2 separate regions of the Homo sapiens genome follow, and region 1 is linked to region 2. The links come from fine-mapping of genetic effects on gene expression. A gene starts in region 2. The other region holds a variant in brackets. All regions are shown on one strand. Distances are from middle to middle. Region 1 overlaps FAM169A (family with sequence similarity 169 member A). Region 2 holds the start of NSA2 (NSA2 ribosome biogenesis factor).

Region 1 (11,584 bases), 59 kb after region 2:
TAATGGTTTCATAATTCTGTGAATGTATTTTTAAAAACTGAATTGTATCCTTTTTTTTTTTTTTTTTTTTGAGGCAGAGTCTCATTCTGTTGCCCAGGCTGGAGTGCACTGGGCCGTCTTGGCTCAATGCAACCTCCACCTCCTGGGTTCAAGCAATTCTCATGCCTCAGCCTCCCTAGTAGCTGGGATTACAGGTATGCAGCACCACACACAGTTAATTTTTTGTATTTTTAGTAGAGATGGGGTTTCACTGTGTTGGCCAGGCTGGCCTCAAACTCCTAACCTCAGGTGATCCACCCACCTCAGCCTCCCAAAGTGTTGGGATTACAGGCATTAGCCACCGCACCCAGCCTGAATTGTATATTTTAAATGGGTGAATTGTATGGTATATGAATATCTCAGGTAGTTGTTAAAAATGTAAAAACAAAATATCAACTTACAAGTGACTCCAATAAACCATTTATAACCAGATTTTGCAGACAGCCCCAAAACCTACTCTACCTAGTTTACCAATTTTTTAGTAAACCTCGCCCCTACTCGCCCACTCTAGGAACTCATGTTTGACTCTTCCTTCACAGCCCACGTACAATCCATCAGAAATCCTGCAGGAATCACTTCATAACTAATCTCAAACATGATCACTTCTTACCACCTCTACCCCATCTCCCTTGTCTAAGCTACTGTCACCTCTCACCAGGGCTTCTACAACAGCCTCTTAGCTAGCTGAACTCAACCCTGCCATCTCTGCAGCACCCAGAACCCCTGCACCCAGTTTCCCACAGAGCAGCCAGATTTGCCTTTTTAAAAGACAAACCAGATGTTACTCCTATACCCAAAACCCTTCAATAGTTTCCCATCACCTGCAGAAAAAAATTCAAATTCTTTCTTTGGCCTAAAAAACCTTTCAGGATACAGTCCCTGCCTCTCTCCTAATCCATATCAATCACTATACTCTGGCCACACTGCTCTTACTATTTCTGAAGTATCCCAAACTTGTTTCTGCCTCAGGGCTTCTGCATTTTCAGCTCTTTGCCTGAAAATTTCTTCTCCTGATCTCACTATTCCATCACTTCATTCAGAGAGACTTCCCCTAACTATTCCGTTTAAAATAGTACCTGCTGTCCCACACGTTCTATTCTTTTAATTTACTTTGGTTGTCTTCACATCATCTGACAGCATATCATCTACTTGTCCATTCATTGCTATGTCTCCTTCTAAAATCTAAGTTCTAAGAGGACAGAGCTTATAAAATATCTATGACTATCTCTCAATTTCTTCCTCTTGCTCTTTCTCACACTTCCCCCGCCTCCCTTTCCCTATCTATATGCACTTAAGATCAACTTTTTAATAAATGAATAAATTTCAGCGACACCATTCAGGTCTATGTATTGAATTCAAGAACAGATATTCTGCCACAACTGAGCAGCTGCTTCTTCTCATAGAATCACCATTCATTCTTTGTCCACCCAGGAATATGCCTTCTCTCCCCTTAAAACTTAACACCTCATGAAGCCATCAGTGTGTGACTGTCTCCATTGAAGACATACATAAAGTGAATTTCAGATTCAGATTATCAGATTCAGATTATTCAGAAATTCAGATTATCCTCAGATGAGCGAACCTGTCATATACCACTAGGTATTCTCATTACAGTCTTCATGCTCTATAAATTAGTTAAGGCAATGCTAGCTGCCGTAACAAACCAAACCTGGAATGTTTAACATAATAAAAGTTCCTTTTTTGTTCAAATTAACAGTTACACGTTCCTGGGAAGTGGATGGTTTCCTCCTCACAATCATGAAGGAACTGTTTCAGTTACCTACTGCTGCCTAAAAACCAGCCCAAAACATATTGGCTTAGAACTAAAATTTATTTCCTATTTATCACAACTCTCATAGGGCATCAGCTAGGGCACTGGGATGGCAGAAGATCCAATGGCCTCACTCCTACAGTGGGACAGTCTGTAGTGGCTGCAGGTGGAAGAAACAGCTGGTCTTGTCAGCCAGAGCCTCAGTTCTCTTCAATGGAGCTGCTGGGGTCTCTTCACCTCAGAGTAGTCTCCAGGTCGTTGTATTTCTTACATGGTGACTAGCTTCTAAGAGTGCCAAAGTGGAACCTGCCAGCCTTCTTAAGGCTGAGCACAGTGTTATGCATTCTCCTGGTTAAAGCAAGTTATAGGGCCAGCCCAGATTCAAACAGGCTACACAAGGATGTAAATACTGGGAAGTGTGGTCCACCAGGGCCACCAAGTTCCTTTTATCCTGTGGCTTCCTCATCCCTTACATCTTCAAAGTCCTCTGTATAGATGAGGAAAAGGAATGCATCTTAACCACTTTGACGCAAAGTCACAGGCATCATCTTTTTCATTATTTTGTAAAGAACTAGTCACACAGCCCCATGTAGTTGTAACAGTGACTGGAAAATAGAATCCCTGACTGGGCAGCTCTGGCCAATGACTAGAATATAGAAAATGAACCACAAATATTTTATGGACAGCTAGCAGCCTCAGCTAACTTTCCTCTTATCTCTCAGCAGATCAACATTTCCTTGTTAACTCTCAGGTCATCAGTGGTCACATCTCAGGAGACACTACCTTTTGCCAGAATACTCCCTCCAGTAATGTTTGGTTACTTTAGGCTGTTTTCAGTGTCATTTCCTCATACCAATATTCACAAATACACTCACTTTATACAACAGTTTTGACTGATCTCATCCACGCTGTAAAATTACTTTAAGTATTCTGGGGCCCACATAAATATCCATACCTCTTCCATGTGCTCCAACTTACATTTCTATGTTATGTCTACTTACATATGCCTTAGGGACACATATGCCCATGTCAAAATTGAACTAAAGTATTATCAAACTACTCCTCTTCTTCTATTCCCAATCTTAATTAACAGCCTCCCACCAATACCTAAGCACCCAAGCCAAAGCCATTCAGATTCATCACTAGTTCCTCCACTCCCCGCCTACACACTATGGAGTTACCACACTCTGTCCACCTGAAACTCTCCCTCAGATGTTCCCTTCTCCACTCCTACTGGTGCTTTCCTAGTTCTGGTCCTTCATTCACCTGAACTACTAAAACAGCTCTTTTAATTGACTTCCCTGACTTTAAAATACAATTTTCCAAGTGCTCCAAACAGTATGTCCCTAAAATATTTAATCATGTTACTTCTACATAAAATTATTTGATAGCTTCCTGGCCAATAAAATGCCACACTTCTTTGTAGGACAATTAAGATCCTTTGCAATGGGACCTCCATCTTCACTTCTCCTACTTGTTAGTCCCACCACCTTATTCAGGATGTAGTTCCAAATATGCCCTAAACTTTCATGACTCTCTGCCTTCTGCATATATTTATATTCCATTCATGTTTACCAAGAATGTTCTTTCCCTTCCCCCTTCTCTTACTGACAAACTACTTACCCTTCAAAACTACTTTTAAATATCACTTTCCCAGTCACACCTCCCTCCAGGCAAAGTTAACTACTTGCTTTCAAAGACTGCCATTGTTGATACCTCAAATGTATTACTTACAAAACTGAATTTTGATTATCTAATAATACAGCTTATCGACTATGATGTTGTGGGTTTTACTGTCTCATCCACTAGATTTTTGGTGCTTTGAGAACTGAACCCATGACAAATCATCTTTGTGTTTCCACTAAAGTCAACTCTATCTCTCGAATAAACAGAACCCTTATTGGCAAGCAAGTGGTTTTTCAGATAGCTAGAACTTCACCTCAACAAAGCAGCCATCTCGTTTCCCAATGATACATTTCAGGTAGCCACAGAGTAGTACGGGACTCTCACATGCCTTTGCACATTTCCCAAAGACAAGAATCACACCTAGACAGACTCAAGTCCTTAAAATATAATCACACTCTCCCAACAAAAAATTCAGCTGGGTTTCACTTTTAGCTATACTATCAATCCTTATAATTTTACATCACAATGTTTGTTATTCCTTAAAATAACCTTAAAAGGCCCAGAAATCTGAATTTTAGTGAACAGGAAGTGAGTAATCTGTCCAAAAAAGTAGGGAAGATCATGGATATAGCCCCTAGTAAAAGGTCTGGAAGCCACAAGGAAAGCTGACGAGTAAATGTGGACAAGAAAAAATGCTTCCATTACAAATCACCTCAAATGAAGATTACAAAAACCAGAAATACACTTCCTGGTATTGGTCACAAATCCCTTCAGTAGTGGGCTAAACTGACTTATAGTAGTTGTTGACTAGATTGTTCTTCCCCAAAATATTAAGTCTTCAAATTGGATCAAGGCAATTGACAGTTGAAGCCAAATAACAATGAGTACTTCAAAAATAGCGACTAATGATAGTGACCTCAATTGTGTTCTCTGAGCTTATCTACACTAAAATACGGTATGCTATTTACACAAATTTGCATCTTTATATACTTCTTGATATAGGCCAAAAGTCACAAAACTTCCACTGAATTAACCAGTGATTTGTTTTGTATTATTTTAGTAACTGTATGAGACTTTTTCATTAATCTTCTAATTAGCACAGCCCTTTAACAGATAGTCCTTATCATTCCAGGCTGAGAAGGATTTATAAAGTTCAGCTAGTTTTGTGGTAGATAGTGATTACACTTTGGACATGGCCTCATTTTTTTAAATGTATACTTCTTGTTTTTAATCAAAGTCATCCATAACATTGTTTAGAATACAATAGTCATATAAGACTTAAGAAAAAAAAAAAGCAGCTCTGTGACCACTTTCCTGATACACACACATACACACACACACACACACACATACACACACACAAACACACTTTCTACACCCCAAAAGCAACCATTTTGAAGTCATTTAGCTGATATTTTCGGTATTTACTTCTACTTCTCTAAGTAACTTACTATACCTCTTGATTTCTATTTCTTCATTTTTCCATTTTAGGCATAGATAGCTAGAACTTGGAAGGTGAGAATTTAGCTCTTAAATACATTCACACACCCCAATCTCAACTCCAACATAAACACACTTCCCATACAAAAAACCCCAACACCCCTAAATAGTAATTTGTGATTTGTTAGATCAATTTTCAGTATTTACATTATGACTATATAAATGCTTTTGACAACTGAGCCATATAGTGTACCATGAATGTTTATTTTTATCTTTATTCTTACACTTTTTGATTTCCCTTAATAATATTTATTACTATCTCTCTCATCCTCCAAAGTCTCCAGTAACTATGTAAATCTTATCCCAATAAATTCAAATACATCAGGTATTCTATGAACTCTATCTTCTTAAATCAACGTCCCAGAGCTTTGTGATCTGCTCCAATCTAGATCAGTCAATCTTTAGAAAAAGAAATGTCCAAAAGATCATTCTGCAATGATGGAAAAGTTCTGTATCTACTCTGTCCAATGCAGTAGCCACTAGTCACATGTGGCCATTGAGCTCTTAAAATGTGGCCAGCATGACTGAGAAACTGAATTTTAAAATTTAACTTCAACAGCCACATAAAGCTAGTGGTTTTAACAAAGAGCAGCTCCACAACTGACATAGCTGTGATGTTGGATCTCCTTTCTTTTCTCTCTTAGTTTCCTAATCCCATCTTTCCTTCTTGATTTTCTTTATCTTAGGAGAGCACAAACTCTACTCACTTCCAGAAAAGGGGTATATAAAAGGTAAATTGTTTTAAGACTGACAGTCTAGAAATTTCCTTCTTTCACTCTCACTCTTTATTAATTTGACGGGGCACAGAACACACTGGAAATCACTTTACCCTTGGTATCTTAAAGGCATTATTCCACTTCTAGTATTCATGTTGCTGTTGAGAACTCTAGTAACGTTTTGATTCTTGATCTTTTGTCTAAATCATTCTCTCACTTTATGGA[G/A]GCTTTCAAAATCTTTTCTCTATTCCAGATGCTCTGAAATTTCACAATAATCTTGGTATGAGTGTATCTTAATTCATTGTGATGGATGCTCAATGGGCCCTTTTAATCTGGAAATGTGTGTTCTACAGTTCTGAGAAATGTTAGTGAATTATTTTATTGGTGATTTTTTCTCCTCCAATTTGTTCTCTCCTCCTGAAACATGTATTATTTAAATAATCCCTCTAATTTTATCATCTCTTCCTATTTACCATCATTTAGGTTTGTTTTTTGTTGTTTCTGCACTCCTTTCTGATCAACCTCCTCCAACTCTATTGGATTTGTTTTAGTTTCTAAGAGCTCTGTGAACATTCTTGTTCTTATTTCATAAATGCAATGACTAACTTTTCCAAAAATTTTAAGGGCCACATTTTTTGCATTGTCTTCTCCTCCAAATCTCTTTTACTCTCTTTTGCTTTAATCACCATTTTTCACATCAGTGGCCTTCCTTACCTATGACTATCTGTTCATAATTAAGAATGAGATATTAAAAAGCTAATTAGAAGCTCTGTGTGTATGGTGGGGCTTGCTGGCAATGGACCTCACAGCAGGATGATATGGCTGGAGCCTTTCCTAGGGGAACCATTTATATTGGTATTTTTAGTTTCTTTTTTCTTTTGGCCTAGTCAAACTCCTCAAAGGAGACGTTTTTGCTCATGTAGCCATAAAATAATTTTGAAATACCATATATTCACACATCCTTGTGATATCTAAAAATTTTCATCTAAGTTTCAATCAATAATTACAGAAGATGTTATTTCTGACATATTGTTGACTTTTAAAAAACTATTTTAAAAACAATTGTAGACTTATAGAAAAGTCACAAAAACATTACAAAGAGCTCCCATATACCCTTCACCCTAATGTTAACATCCTATATAGCCAAAATACTATTATCAAAACCAGGAAATTAACATTGCTATAATACTGTTAGCTAAACTACAGACTTTATTCAAATTTCACACATTATTCCACTAATGTTCTTTTCTGTTTCAGAATCCAATCCAGAATTCCTTCCTGCATTTAGTTTAATATATCCCTAAACTCTGGTCTTCGATAATTCCTCCATCTCCCCTTGTCACTCATAACCTTGACACTATGGCTGATTGTCAGTTACTTTATAGAATAACTCTCCTAATTTGGCTTTGTCTAATGGTTTCTCATGAATGAACTGAGATCATAAATTTTGGGCAAAAATGCTACAGAATGATACTGTGCCCTTCTCAGTACATCATATATCATGGGATACATGATGTTGATATGTCTTATTACTAGTGATGTTAACCATAATCTGTTGGTTAACATGGTACCTGCCAGGTTTCTCTGTGTAAATTTACCATTTTTCCCTTTGCAGTTAATAAATAACATTGACTTAAAGAAAAACAAAACTATTACACCCTTCTTTTATATGTATCAAATGGACTCTAGAAACTATAATCAATCTGGTAACTGTTACCATCCATTGAACAAACTATTCCTTAACAGTTTTACACTGCTCCTTCTTCTCCTTGCACTAATATTTCTATGATATTTATTCCACAGAATGTTATCCTGATGTAATATTTTTATGCATGGAAGTTTACTGATTATCCAATCATTTTTCTCTACAAGAATATATTTGTATATAAATTCTAAAAATATCTTGTGATCCTAATGTTCTAAGTATTGATCCAAAAGAAATTTGGAATTATTATAATTATTATATTAGTATACAACAAATCAAAACACATATATCGGGAAAACTAATTACTAAGCAAAATAAAACCAAATATTATTTTAAATACAACTGTTAATGAAATAGATGGAGCTTATCTTTTTTTTTTTTTTTGAGATGGAGTGTCTGTCACCCAGGCTGGAGTGCAATGGTGCAATCTCGGTTCACTGCAACCTCCACCTCCCGGGTTAAAGCGATTCTCCCACCTCAGCCTCCTGAGTAGCTGGAATTACAGGAACCCGCCATCATGCCCGGCTAATTTTTGTATTTTTTTTTGTACAGACGGAGTTTCACCATGTCGTCTAGGCTCATCTTGAACTCCTGACCTCGGGTGATCTGCCCACCTTGGCCTCCCAAAGTGCTGGAATTACAGAAGGGAGCCACCATGCCTGGCCTGGAGTGTATCATTTTTTAATTAGTTTATGAGTTCATGAATTACTTACTACCAGAATGAGACAAAGTTCAGCATTAATCCTATTCCTATTTTTTATTTTTATAGATATAAGTGCTTAAGAACCTTGTTCAAATAAGAAGGAACCAGAAAACCCTTCGTTATAGCAATGTAAGTGTCCTTAGTTATGTGCCACATATCACACAGTGATCTATTATAAAAAATTATCTTTAATAATCTGGCATTATTAAACACAACTCAAATCCTCTTTCATTTTTGTTGAAAACAAATAGAAACCACCTGACTTACAAAAGAATATCATCTAATTATATCCAGTCACTTTTACACTACTACAAAACTATTTAGAGGCCTCTCCCTGCCTTCTTTTTTCTTTTTTTAAAGTGGGACTTCCAGACCTTTTTACAACTCCAGATTAGCAAGATAAAGGTTAGATGAAAGATATACCTTCATTTTGTAAAATGGGAGAAGGAAGATAATTTATTCCCTAACACAAATGTTGCCACCATACCTGAAAGTCTCCATGTGCCCCCAGGAGCAGGTCTTTTCCCAGAGCAAGGCTGGGGTAACTGTCCAGCTGTGCTGCATTAGGGAAGGAACTTTCAGCCAATCCTTTTCTAAGGCTCCACCTCCCAGAAGTAGCTAGTGTTATAATGACTGAACTTTTTAAAGGTTCTAAAATATAAATGTGGTGCTTCCTGCCTTGGGCAATGGCATCTTAGGATTCAGTTACTACATAATCTACCCTTTTCCCAGATTATAAAGTTTTGTTGCTGTTACACTCTCCTCTTACTCACTTCGTCATGTGGGATTTATGCTGTTTAAAAATGTCTTTGGTGTCATTCTGGTGGTGTTTGCAAGAGAGAGTAGAGGCTGAGGCACGTGTTCAACCCACCCTCTTTAACCAAAGCATTAGCACTATAGCCACACCCTGCCTACCACTAGCAATATAAACTCCTCAACATGCCATCCAAATTTTCACTACAAAATTCTGAGAAAAGTTTGCAAGAGTACATGTATGACTTATACAGACTTTGAATACAAAGTTCTACGCCTGAGGTCAATGAATTTTGAACGGTGTCCTGAATAAACTAAAAATATTACATAACTTAGTATAGCAATTATTGTAAAACTCAGTATAGAACAATTTTTTCTTCTTTTACGCTCCCTTCTGTGTCATAAAAAGGCTTTCTCTGCAGTTTTCATCCTTTTATAAACTATTTTTGCAGGTAAGTTTTTGTTACACATGAAGTACTCAAACGGAACGACTATAAAATATCTGATTTTGCAACCATGAACATTTTCTATTATCTTTCATCAAGTGCTTTCCTTTAAGTCTTTAGTGCCATGCCATAAGATAAAGGTATTTGTGGATTTAGCATCTATGGTTTCTTGTGAATGCAAGTCACCACGCAGGTCCAAGATAGGCAATAATTTGTCATTTTCCTATGACACAGATCTAATCTCTATTTGTTGCTAAGCCCGTGTTTTATGAATTAAGTTATATAAACACAGGTACAAAGAAAAGTAATAGCAAGATTTCCTTCCTTAAATAGAAAACTAAAATACTTGAGAGGCTGAGGCAGGTGGATCAATTGAGCCTAGGAGGTTGAGGTTGTAGTGAGCCATGATTGCGCAACTGCACTCCAGCCTGGGCAACAGAGCAAGACCCTAGCTCAAAAAAATAATTAAACGACCCTTTACAAGAAGCCCGACAGGCGTGGTGACTCACGCCTATAATCCCAGCACTTTGGGAGCCCAAGACAGGTGGATCATCTGAGGTCAGGAGATCGAGACCAGCTTGACCAACATGGTGAAACCCCATCTCTATGAAAAATACAAAATTAGCCGGGCGTAATGGCACGTGCCTGTAACCCCAGCTACTCAGAAGGCTGAGGCAAGAGAATCGCTTGAACCCAGGAGGCAGAGGTTGAAGTTAGCCGAGGTCGTGCCACTGTACTCCAGCCAGCCTGGTGACAGAGTGAGACTCCATCTCAAAAAAAAAGAAATATGGGGAATAAAATACAGATCACTTAATGATTTATTCCCTAAGGTGGTAGCATTTTGAATGTTCTACCAAAAGTAATTACTGTATCAACTTTGTTAATCTAATGGTCATTAGGAAAAAGTAAACAGCACAATATTAGAAAAATTAAATAATTCCATTTACCTAGATAAGAATCCCCCTCACACAACAACATAAAAAGAGAGGAAAGAGAAGCCCTTGATGATGGGGAACTTGCAACTTGACTTAAGATTACAGATTACTATAAAACTACCTATAATATAGGAAAAGAAAGAAGTAAACTATAACTCTTCAATGTCGAACATGATGTGCTCAATAAATACCTTTTATTACTAGTCATGATCTGTTGCTACAAGCCTAAAAAACTGACAAGGATAATGAAAACCAAACTTGATAAGTAGAGGGACTGTTAACTATGGATCCTGTGAAGATGTGCTCTAATCCCACTAAGCAATAATGACAACTACAGAAAAAAATACTAACTATCCCAGTGGATTGTGGGGAAGGTGCCAATAGACACAGGAGATTATGAGAAATACAATGCAACGGGTGTTTACTATTAGGAACTATCATTAAATAATTCCTAGCCTTAGAAATGTTATTCAAAAAAACTGCATATATCCCAGTTCACTATAGATCATGTACCTGTCACCATGACTATACATCACATATCTATTTTTTTTTAAACAGGGAATACATAATTTTTACAGTCTGTATTTAAGGAATAACAAGATAATGCCCAAACTTGAAACTATAATGTCTGAAAATTAACCTACTAAGAATAAATCATAAAAGCATTTGACCCAAAATATTGATATATAAATGAGTAGCTGAAGAGTTTTGCATTTTCATAATTTCGCCTATTGAGAAATAATCTTTATTCCTATATAGCATAATGTCTCAGGGTCATACACTGGGGCTTTGATGACAAAACACTACCTGCATTTACTCTTATTGAATCTTCTCTTCTCAAGACTCCAAGAAATAAATCTTCCTTTACTATCTATCATAGTCTTTCAACTTAACAACCTTTCTCTTAAATTCAACTTTTCTTTTGAAAGCCAGACCTGAGACCAAGGATTTCTGCCCACAGACAGTCCCCACTTCTAACCACAGAATTCAGAAAACTTTAGAGCCAAAAGAAGTCTCAACGATCATCTGTGGTCAAGCCTAATTCCCTTATTTAAAGGAGAAAAGTAAAAGCCAAAAAAAGACTGCTACACAACTTACAAGTTAATAGCAATACTATAACAAAACCCAAAATCTCTTTGATACTAATGCTTGATTTTGTCTTACGATAATTTCTGAGTTGTACAGTAGACTAAATAGCGAAGTTTCTAAAGAATAGATTGACTTGTCTGAAAAAGCTGTCCCAATTATTTCATTAATAATTTCTTCAAACTCAAACTCATCAGCAGTCTTGAGGTATGCAAATGAAAAAGAATAGAGAGTAACTAAGGTACAGATTGAATAACCCTTACCCAAAATGCTGAGAACCAGAAGTGACTGGATTTCAGATTTT
Region 2 (11,584 bases):
ACATGTGGCTTTAATCTTTTTAAACTTGCTCTTATTTTATAGCAGCATATATTCTAGTAAAGAGAAAAAGAAACTTGGCATTAATTTTATTTTAGCATCACTTATTACAGTGTTAATATTGTAATTACGCTTTGTCAGAAGATAAAATATTTTGTATAGCTTTAAAGTAGTCCTAATTTATTAACTCCAATTCTTTTAAAAAGTGACAATCCAAATATATCCTAGGGGAAAGAATAAGGATAAAATTAATACTGATTTGCTATTTTGAGCTGACCTTAAAACAATGGTTTTCCTCAACCTGCAGCATTAGCATGGGCTGAGGGCTTGTTTGAAAAACATGCTTAGGCTCCAATCCAGACAAGAGAATCAGAAACTCTTGGGGATGGAGCCAAACAATCTGTTTAAACTAGCTCTCCAGTTGATTCTAATAGCTACAGATTGAGAACCACAACCCTAAAGTTCTGAAAGTCAGAAGCTGAGTCAGAAAGGTTAAATAAGGTATCTCACCCAGGATACACCTTGGTTTTCCTCTACATCTGCTGAAAGGTCTGTAGGGGGCAATGAACTCTAAAACCATTAGTTGTTTTCAGGATTTATTACAGTTACACATTAGAATCATCTGGAAAGCTTCTTGAAGACACGGGGGTGGGGAGAGAAAATGAGAACTGGAGGAACTGGGCAGTGGCATTTAAAAAAAATTCCCAGGGTGTCTCCAATGTAGCATTCAACTGAGAATCACTGAGTTAGAGCAGGTCTGCTTAAGGCCAAGCCTACCTCCTCTACCTTAGCTGCTTACCTAACCTTCTCATGTTCTCATGTAAAGGCTGAATATTCTCCACCTCAGTTTATGCCCAGACCACTAGATATACATTTAATAGCTGCCAATGTAGTTGGAATTGTTAGTGTATGTAATGATTTAGGGCCACCACAATCTGCTTTTTGTTTCATGAACTGCGTATCTGTGCGATCTATATTATTTCTACATTAGTTACCAAGTTTCTGGCAATAATAAGCTACTATCCTCAGAAAATAATTCCACTGCATAATGACTAGGATAAGACCCAGTGTCTATCACAGCGTGCATAGTCTGAAAGCGTCAGCAATAAAAGCACTGAAGAAAAACTGGGTAACTCCTTGGGCCACTTAATGAGATCACAAATGGAATACAGAAATATATCTTCTTCAAAATGCTGCTCAGGTGATTTTTAAAGTAGCAAAAAAAAATTGTAGATGAATGGTAAGGCTTCTTAGCAACAACAACAAAAAAACTGTAGACGAATGGTAAGGCTTCTTAAGGGTTACAGGTTCTCCCATACAGCAGTCACACCCTATCCACAGGGGTTATATTCCAAGACCCCCAGTGGATTCCTGAAACCTCAGATAGTACAGAACCTAATTACTATCAATCAGAACATGGTTCTGTTCATGTCTTCTGCCCACAAACTGAATACCTTTTCCATCTTAACTGAGCTCTTATCATGTTATGTGACCATAATTTTTGTAGTTTGAAGTGCAACAGTAAAACTAGCAAAAATGTCTTTTTCTTTCTTCACAATTTCATGGATAGAAGATTCATTCCTACCATAGATCTTAGCAACCTCAGCATATGATTTGTTTTTTTCCTTATTAAGCCAAGAATGTTCACCTTTTCACTTAAAGGGAGCACTTTATGGCTTCTCTTTGGCACATCCAAATTGCCAGCATCACTACTCTTGCGCTCTGGGACCGTGATTAAGTAAAATAAAGGTTACTTGAACACAAGCACTGCAGTATCACAACAGTGAATCTGATAACCCAGATGGCTACTGACTCATGGGTGGGGAGTGTATACAATGTGGATATGCTGGGCAAAGGAATGACTCACCTCCCAGGTGGGATTAAGTGGGATGGCATGAGATTTCATCACAGTACTCAGAATGGCACACAATTTAAAACTTATGAATTATTTCTGGAATTTCCCATTTAATTTTCAGACCACAGTTGACTCTGAGCAACTGAAACAGCTAAACAGCAAAACCATGAATAAGGGGAAACTATTGTACTCCCTGTTAAGTCACTGAAGATAAAAAGAAACAACCCAAACAAGCTTTAAAGTAATCTCTCACTTAGCTATAGATAAAAAGGGTATTATTATGTTTGAGATTTAATATCTTTAAGTATACTGAAGATGTGATAGTTTAGAAAATAATTTATAGTGTTTTGAAGAGGATTCAGGAGTCAGACCAGAGCTAAAGACTAAAACAATGTTCCTGAGACAAATATCAGACTGCCGAAGAAGCTGGCTTCCAACAGCTCTGCAGAAGACAGCCAAAAGTAGTTGTATCAACCATTGTATAATTATGTTGTACTTTGATATTAACAGAAACTTTATTTCATAAGAGTCTCAATCCATGGATACTTAATATTACAAAGCACATTATTTGTTAGTAGTTTAAAGATGTGCATTAAGTGATGACATTCTTAGATATAAAACCCTACCCCTCCTTCAAAAACAACTGGCATTTTAGTACTCCATGAGACCAGTATTTAGCTACAGCTGTTCTTTTACTTTTAAATTAAGGTAATTTCCTCTTATATTTCTTAATAAATTAAGGTAATTACTTTCAAATTAGTTTAGCTTGAAGATTTCCAAAGGTTATGACTCAACTAAATTTGGAATCAACAGCTGATGAGATATACTGGGCATTTTAGGCAGTAAAGGAGCTGAGGTTGTTAAAGGACACTTAATTTTATAAGAAATGCTTACATTAATATACACACTGGGTATTGTCTGATGACTCATTGCAAATATCCTCAAGTTGGTCAACATCTTGATCCTCCAAACTGTTACTGTCTGAAAAAATAAATATACAAAATCAAAAAACTAAACTTATGTATTACATGTCAGCAAGGCATATGTAAGTTAGACATATGTAATATGTATGGTAAAATGTATTACTTTTAAAAAGTTGGAACAATATTTTTAGCTACCAAAAATTCAATGCATCATTCAGAAAATGGAAAATTCTGATTAAATATGAGAAATATGGTTTTTAGGTTTAAAATGTCCCTTATTTGTCAATGTAATGTTTAAAGAAAGATATGGCGATACAGTAGAAATCAACTTATTGAAATTACAAAACATTGTATCAACCAAAATGCATTGTTATGTAAATGTATAGAATTAAGCATAAAAAGCTAAGCATCCACATATTAACTTGGTAATTTCTAATTGGCAGTAAAATTTATTGATTCATTTGTATACTCTGATTTTCCTACCATACCATGTAAAAACTAAATCATGTAAAAAATATATAAAAGCAAGTCCTCTTCCTCTCTGATTATAGAAACTAAGCATCTTTAGTTTAAAAACATTTGCTAAATATTCACTATGTTTCAAGTACAATATCAAAGCTATTAGAAATATAAGGACGCAGCTGAGACTGGGGATGCTGGGGAGACAGACAGACCATGTTAAACCAAGCTTGTCCAACCCGTGGCCTGCAGGCCACATGCGGCCCACGATATCTTTATATGCAGCCCAACATAAATTCGTAAACTTTCTTAAAATATTATGAGGTTTTTTTTATTTTTTTTTAGCTCATCAGCTATTGTTAGTTATCATTAGTGATTTTATGTGTGGCCAAAGACAATTCTTCCAGTGTGGCCCAGGGAAACCAAAAGATTAGACACCCCTGTGTTAAACCATTGTGATCCATGTTATTAAGATATGTGAAACCTCATTACTACTCCTAAGTCTGTTCTTTCTGGATCTTAGCTAAGAAACATTCACTACTCTTATTTAGAAAGTCATCTAATACTTACATTTGATTTCCTAAATATATTTGAATCTGTTCCCTTTGTTGTTTTTTTTTTTTTTTTTTTTTTTTTGAGACAGGGTCTTGCCCTGTCACCAAGCCTGGAGTGCAGTGGCTTGATCTCAGCTCCCTGCAACCTCTGCCTCCTGGGTTCAAGCGATTCTCCTGCCTCAGCCTCCCGAGTAGCTGGAACTACAGGCATGTGCCACCACACTTGGCTACTTTTTGTATTTTTAGTAGAGACGGGGTTTCGCCATGTTAGCCAGACTGGTCGTGAACTCCTGACCTCAAGTGATCTACCCACCTCGGCCTCCCAAAGTGCTGGGATTACAGGCGTGAGCCACCATGCCTGGCCTTGAATCCATTCCCTTTTCATTGGTAACGCCAAAGTTCAGGGCCTCATAGTCTCTCCACAGTTGTGACTGTAATAGACATTTTCCTCTTCTTTAACTCAGTGGTTGTCAATAAAAAGATAATTTGCACAACCCAGCCCTCCCCCGCCCAAGCCTATTCGTTCCCATTTATTCAACAAGAATTTACTGTGTGTCTGCCTACCCACTGCTTTCTAGATATCAGCGTTAATGCAGTGAACAAAAGACAACAATCTCTGCCCTCATACTGCCTCTACCGTAGTCAGGGGATACAGACAACAAACAAAAGTAACGAATACAATACATAGTCTCTCCCATGATGATAGGGTGCTGTAGAGAAGAATGAAGCAGGAAGGAGGAATTGGGACAGTTAGAACTGTAAGTAAAGAGATCAAGGAAGGCCTCATTCAAACAGTGACATTTAAGCAAAGACCTGAAGTAGATGAGGGAGGAAATTCGGGGGATTGAGGGACGGCGGGGAGGGGCGCATTAAAGGCAAAGAGATTATATAACGTACTGTACCTAAAATATACAAATGCTAGTTACTATTTCTGGTTTTAAAGAGAATGATGAGATCACCTTAGAAAATGGAGCCTTAAAAAACTGCTTCAAAGGCGGGGCTCGGTGGCTCACGCCTGTAATTCCAGCACTTTGGGAGGCCGAGGCAGGTGGATCACCTGAAGTCAGGAGTTCGAAACCAGCCCGACCAACATGGTGAAACCCCATCTCTACTAAAAATACAAAAATATTAGCTGGGTGTGGTGGCGAGCGCCTATAATTCCAGCTACTTGGGAGGCTGAACCTGGAGAATCGCTTGAACCCGGGAGGCAGAGGTTGCAGTGAGACGAGATGGCGCATTTGCACTCCAGCCTGTGCGACAAGATTGAAACTCCGTCTCAAAACAAAACAAAAACTGCCTCAAAGCCGGGCGCTGTGGCTCAAGCCTGTAATCCCAACACTTTGGGAGGCCGAGGCGGGTGGATCGCTCGTACCCGGGAGTTCGAGACCAGCCTGGGCAACACGGTGAAACCTCATCTCTACAAAAACTACAAAAATCAGCCAGGCTTCGTGGCGCGAGCCTGTAGCTCGCTACTTTTGAGGCTGAGGTCGGAGGATCGCTTGATCCCGGGAGGTCGAGGCTGCGGTGAGCCGAGCTCGTGCCCCTGCACTCCAGCCTGGGCGACTGGGCGAGATGCCGTCTCAAAATACCCATAAAAACAAAAACAAAAACAAAATACTGCCTCAAATACAAGCACTAAGAATTAATGAAAGTATTCTTTTGGTACAGTTCTTTTTGTTCATCAACTGAATCACGCTGCAAGCTGTGAAGTAATTAAGGGAACTTCTGCAACTGTGCAGTAAAAGGGTAAACCTGATAGTGTATTTAAGTAGACGTACTTTCTGGTAGTTAATTACTTCTTGACACTAGGGGGCCACTAAATACAAGTCCACTCAGCATTTGATTCGGTGCACCAAAATGCCTCAGAAATTTCTGGAATCAGTCCTGTACCTCCAAAAAACCAGAATGTTATCTTCTTCTTTTCTAACAGCTGCAAAGCCCCAGTAGTTCCATTTTTCTGTACACTAAGTTTTCATTCCTCAGTATCCTTCACAATCATGCACACATTACACAGAGTGACCGGAACAAAGATGAGTCGACTTCGCCGAATGATAGAGAAAAACTTCCATACTGAGCGAACACCGAGGGGAGTCCGGAGGCCCTGTTGTCCTCTTCCGTGGCTGGCTGTGTCCGTCGCAGCCTGAAAGGTCAGCGGTACCCAGCGCTGTGACAGGGTCACAGGCGCGCGATGTCTCACAGCTCGGAGCAGTACTCACCTGGCATTAGGCCGCGTGCCGCAGGCCAGCTCTCACCGCTGGGCTCTTGAAGCAGGAGGCGCGAGCCGCGCCAAAGTCTGCAACGGCCTCAAGTCTCGACGCCAGCCTAGGCAAAAGGCAATGTATCTAAACGAAAAGAAAATAGGCTTTCTCCGCTCTACCGCCTCGGGCAGCCACACCTCCACACTTCCGGCGGTGTACCGGCCAAATGCCGCCTGCCAGCAACTTCCGTCCTCCTAGCTAAAAGCGGAAAACAGAGGCTCGGAACCGCTGCGTGGTTCTTGCTCTTCACTCGGCCGTTTTAAAGGGTGACTCTTTCCTGTCCCGGCCTGCGTGGTGTGGGCTTGTGGGTCTTTGAGACCCGAAAATTGAGAGCGTTTTCGCACTCCAGCGGCTGCTCCTGGCGGCTCTGCGGCCGTCACCATGGTAAGGAGGATGCCTCGGACGCTCGCGACACACAGCGTCTGAGTTAGTGGGACCTGAGGACTCTGGGGCGCTGGGGTAGGGGGTGAGCGGTGGTAGGCGGAAATGAGAACTGCCAAGAGAAAAGGATGGTAGACCCGTGGGGTGGGCTCTGAGGAGTGGAAACAACTTCACATTCGAGACACAGACGGTATTTGCCAGAACACAAGCTTTGGAGCAAGATTTTACTCTGTCCTGTTTTCTTTTTTCTTTTTGATCCACCGCTAAGAGTCCTAAAAATTCCTGATTTCACCACAAGCGTGGTTATCAGCCCCAGAGCCTAATGGGAATATGGTTGTCCCTTGTACAGTCTTAGATGTCAGTCCCGCCCCCTTCATTTTACTGCTGAGGAAACTGAAGGCGTCCTTGCCAAAGACCAGACAGCTAATGAATTGCGAAGCCGGGCTTAACGGCCCAGATCTAACTGCCAGGTCCTTTCTCTTTGTGTTACGTCTCTATAATCTGCGTTTCTTTGCAAAATGGCATTCCATACACCCTTCATGTGATTGCTGCAAAGTTTATGTGATAGCAGTTGGTAGCAGCACACCTTGTTGGTTGTTACTTAACATTGCTCTCTGTGCTGGACTTGGCTTTGTATCATTTTTATTTTTGCAGCCTTAAAATACGAATAGACTCACGCCTGGCCGCGTGTTTAAAACGTGTCTAAAATGCAAAAAGCATCCCATACATTGCTGGTGAAAAGAAAAATAATGCACTTTTGGAAAACGGTCTGGCAGTAAACACACGTCCACATGAAGACTTGCATGCAGTTGTTTATTGCAGATTTATTCGTAATCACCCAAAACTGGGAACAACCCTGATACCTATCATCTGGTCAGCGGGTAAACAGTGGTGTATCCATACAATAGCATACTACTCAACAATAAAAAGGATTGAAGTTCCTATACCTGCAGCAAATTGGGTGAATCCCAAAAGCAAGAAACCAGATTCAAAAGGCTATGTACTACTGTTGATCCCTGTTTCATTCTGGGAAAGGCAAAACTGTAGGGATAGGTATCAAACTGAGGGTTGGGAAAGAGGATTGACTTAAAAGTTACATAGGGAATTTTAGGGGGAAATGGAAATTCTTTGTATTTTGATTGTGGTGGTTACAGAACTGTGTAGTTAGGAAAAACTTAGAACTGTATACCTAAAAAGGACAGGTTTTACTGTGTGTAAATTATGCTTCAATAAAACTGACTTAAATTTTTTAAATGTGAAATGAAGGTGTTATTAAAAAAGCAAATTATGTCAAGGAAAAAAGATACTGTAATCAGTTCATCCCTTTTGTGGTCCAGTAGATTTTGGACCATTCCCTAATGAGATTATTAGAGATGTAAGCCCTGATGCCTCATATCATTCAAGACCAAAATTTAACTTACATCATGTGAATAAACTTAATGGTGCAAGAATCATTTAAGTAAGTGAACATTTGGATGAAACAGGGTCTTTGTGCTGTGTAAAAGAAAGCATTTTAGAATAATTGTCAGTACTTTAAAAAATTAAAATAATATTTCTTCCATCATTATAGCCACAGAATGAATATATTGAATTACACCGTAAACGCTATGGATACCGTTTGGATTACCATGAGAAAAAGAGAAAGAAGGAAAGTCGAGAGGCTCATGAACGTTCAAAGAAGGCAAAGAAAATGATTGGTCTGAAGGCTAAGCTTTACCATAAACAGCGTCATGCTGAGAAAATACAAATGAAAAAGACGTAAGTGGTCTCATTTATTTGTCATAACAAGTTAACATCTTTTGAGTAATCATTATTAAAACAGATAATCTTGAATCTTTTTTCCTTCTTGGTAGTATCAAGATGCATGAAAAGAGAAACACCAAACAAAAGAATGATGAAAAGACACCACAGGGAGCAGTACCTGCCTATCTGCTGGACAGAGAGGGACAATCTCGAGCTAAAGTACTTTCCAATATGATTAAACAGAAAAGAAAAGAGAAGGCGGTAAGCAATAACAATTGAAGTCTTTGTTTTGTTTAGGAGAATTACTTAAATTCAAATTTGAGGTTCTTGTTTCTCGGTTTAATTTCAAACATGAAGTACAGCTATTATTCCCATTATTTAGATGTTGAAGTCTTTGTAAATTTAATAAAAAACTTGCTTTCTCATCATAAGGTTTTAAAATTTAAGTTATAAAAAAAATTTATTAGAATGCCATATGAAATTAAAAAGCTGGTAAGGAGTGAATTTCAAATTCAATATTTGTCTTCCTGTTTGAAAACCCACAGTGCTATGCAGTCATAAAGAAAAATACAAATGCTTCTTATTTGTGCTGCCCTGTAGTGCCAAACTTGGTTAAAAAGTAGAATGGTGGAAAACTCCCTGAGTTGTCACAAAAAATGTGGCTTTTTAAAACACCTGTAAATAGATTAGCAGAAATCCAGATAAAAGAATATGCAGTATTTATATTTAAAGAATTATTTTTACTGCCTTACACTATTTCAGTTTTTTCATAGAATTTGCACTCAAGGGAGGCATAAAACATCTGGTGAGGATTTTGTCTTGCTAGTGATCTACAGATCCATCTCGGGAAGAAATACAGAGACATATTAAGAGGTGGAAACACTCTTCCAGTATTATGCTATTAAACATTAGTAAACACATATACTGCTTATAGAAGTCACTATCGGCTGGGCACCGTGACTCACGCCTGTAATCCCAGCACTTTGGGAAGCCAAGGCAGGTGGATCACCTGAGGTCAGGAGTTCAAGACCAGCCTGACCAATGTGGTGAAACCCCACCTCTACTAAAAATACAAAAATTAGCTGGGTGTGGTGGTGTGTGTCTGTAGTCCCAGCTACTCGGGAGGCTAAGACAGGAGAATTGCTTGTACCCAGGAGGCGGAGGCTGCACAGTGAGCCAAGATTGTACCACTGCACTCCAGCCTGAGCAACAGAGCGAGACTCCATCTAAAAAAAAAAAAAAAAAAAACCACCACATTACAGGTGGTATTTTCTCACCCATAACACAGCATTAAGATTTTTAGCTTAAGCCAACCATTTATTTAACATACCCATGATATATAAACTTGTTCTGTTTAATTTGCAGCTTATGAGACAATACAGACCTCTAGAAGACGGTTGAGCCAAAAATGTGTTGATGGTCAAGCAAAAAAAATAGATCTATTACTTTGTACAACTAAAACATATTTGACTTATTCTCATTGTCCTTTAATAACAATATAAACTTTTAACTGTGGCATATTTTTAGGGAAAATGGGAAGTCCCTCTGCCTAAAGTACGTGCCCAGGGAGAAACAGAAGTATTAAAAGTTATTCGAACAGGAAAGAGAAAGAAGAAGGCATGGAAGAGAATGGTTACTAAAGTGTGCTTTGTTGGAGATGGCTTTACAAGAAAACCACCTAAATATGAAAGATTCATCAGGCCAATGGTAAGTCCTTGGAAGAGTGTAATGACCGAAATGTTAGTTGACTTTATTAAATCGGATAAAGAACATTATCATTTCCTGAAATTCTTTAAATTGATGTGGAACAGGTTGAAAGATATTTTTATGCAATTTTTGTTATTTTATTGACAGAAGTTATTTAGTACTTTTTCCACTAGTCAAAAATCTTTAGCCCAGTGCGGTGGCTCACACCTGTAATCCCAGCACTTTGGGAGGTTGAGGTGGGTGGATCACCTGAAGTTAGGAGTTCAAGACCAGCCTGGCCAATGTAGTGAAACCCTATCTGTACTAAAAAATACAAAAAATAAGCTGGGCGTGGTGGCGGGCGCCTGTAATCCCAGCTACTAGGGAGGCTGAGGCAGGAGAATCGCTTGAACCTGGGAGGCGGAGGTTGCAGTGAGCTGAGATCACGCCATTGCACTCCAGCCTGGGCAAGAAGAGCAAAAATCCGTCTCAAAAAAAAAAAAAATCTTTTCAGCTTCGTGAGAGATTTGAAAAAGTAGTATCATAAGACATTGTCAGTGAATTCTGACTTTTAAACATGACATATTAGAATCTTCATTTTCCACAGTCATATTTTCCTCATTAAACTAGTGATCTACAATATGCCTGATATTGTCTAGGTCTCAAAACACTTCTTGTCTTTGACAGCAGTTCGAAAACTTGAGTAGGACTGTTTTATAAGAGTCAATTCCAGTTTGATAAGGAAAGTATCTAAATGCTTTTGAAAATCATTGAAAAGCCGGGCGCGGTGGCTCACGCCTGTAATCCCAGCACTTTGGGAGGCCGATGCAGGCAGATCACGAGGTCAGGTGATCAAGACCATCCTGGCTAACACTGTGAAACCCCATCTCTACTAAAAAAAAAAAATACAAGAAATTAGCCGGGCATGGTGGCGGGCGCCTGTAGTCCCAGCTGCCTGGGAGGCTGAGGCAGGAGAATGGCGTGAATCTGGGAGGCAGAGCTTGCAGTGAGTGGAGATCATGCCACTGCACTCCAGCCTGGGGGACAGAGCAAGATTCTGTCTCAAAAAAAAAAAAAAAAGAAAAAAAGAAAAAGAAAATCTTTGAAAAAAGGAAGATAATTTAATATAGCTTAATTTCTGTTGAAGGCAGCAATAGTAATGTGACCCCAAACTTCCCCACCCCTGGGGAGAAACATAGTTGAAGATATATTTTTGCAAAATCCCTTCAAAGAGACTGAACTATTCTCCCAGTTAGATACACAGCCTCAAAAAAACAAAGTATCAGAGAGAGGAAAGTTGCAACATGCCATAATCCTAGTGTTCAACCTGAGTAATTTTTTTTTTTTTTTTTTGGGACGGAGTCTCCCTCTGTATCCCAGGCGGGAGTGCAGTGGCACGATCTCGGCTCACTGCAAGCTCCGCCTCCCGGGTTCTCGCCATTCTCCTGCCTCAGCCTCCCGAGTAGCTGGGACTATAGGTGCCCGCTACCACGCCCGGCTAATTTTTTTGTATTTTTTTGTAGAGACGGGGTTTCACCGTGTTAGCCAGGATGGTCTCGATCTCCGTGATCCGCCCGCCTTAGCCTCCCAAAGTGTTGGAATTACAGGCATGAGCCACCGTGCCCGGCCAACGTGAGTAATTTTTAATAGATTAAAATATTGGCAAATAGCCTGTTTCTGTAAATAAAATTTTAATGGAACACAGTCATGCCTGTTCATTTACATATT

The links.
Region 1: its variant is fine-mapped to the expression of NSA2 in whole blood (INTERVAL, PIP above 0.99).

The regions. Positions count from the first base shown.
Region 1 is chr5:74,819,944-74,831,527 of GRCh38, forward strand. The region is part of intron 5 of FAM169A (family with sequence similarity 169 member A); the gene reads right to left. Among named protein-coding and RNA genes, the nearest start is that of FAM169A-AS1, 40 kb to the right of the region's middle. The variant G/A (reference allele first, on the strand shown) is at 5,878.
Region 2 is chr5:74,760,934-74,772,517 of GRCh38, forward strand. NSA2 (NSA2 ribosome biogenesis factor) reads left to right here and starts at 6,316. Exons shown (of 6, transcript NM_014886.6): 1 at 6,316-6,430; 2 at 7,998-8,185; 3 at 8,281-8,431; 4 at 9,698-9,877. The coding sequence starts at 6,428. GFM2 (GTP dependent ribosome recycling factor mitochondrial 2) reads right to left here and starts at 6,184. Exons shown (of 21, transcript NM_032380.5): 1 at 6,005-6,184; 2 at 2,747-2,833; 3 at 1-53. The coding sequence starts at 2,809. RefSeq lists an enhancer at 5,897-6,336.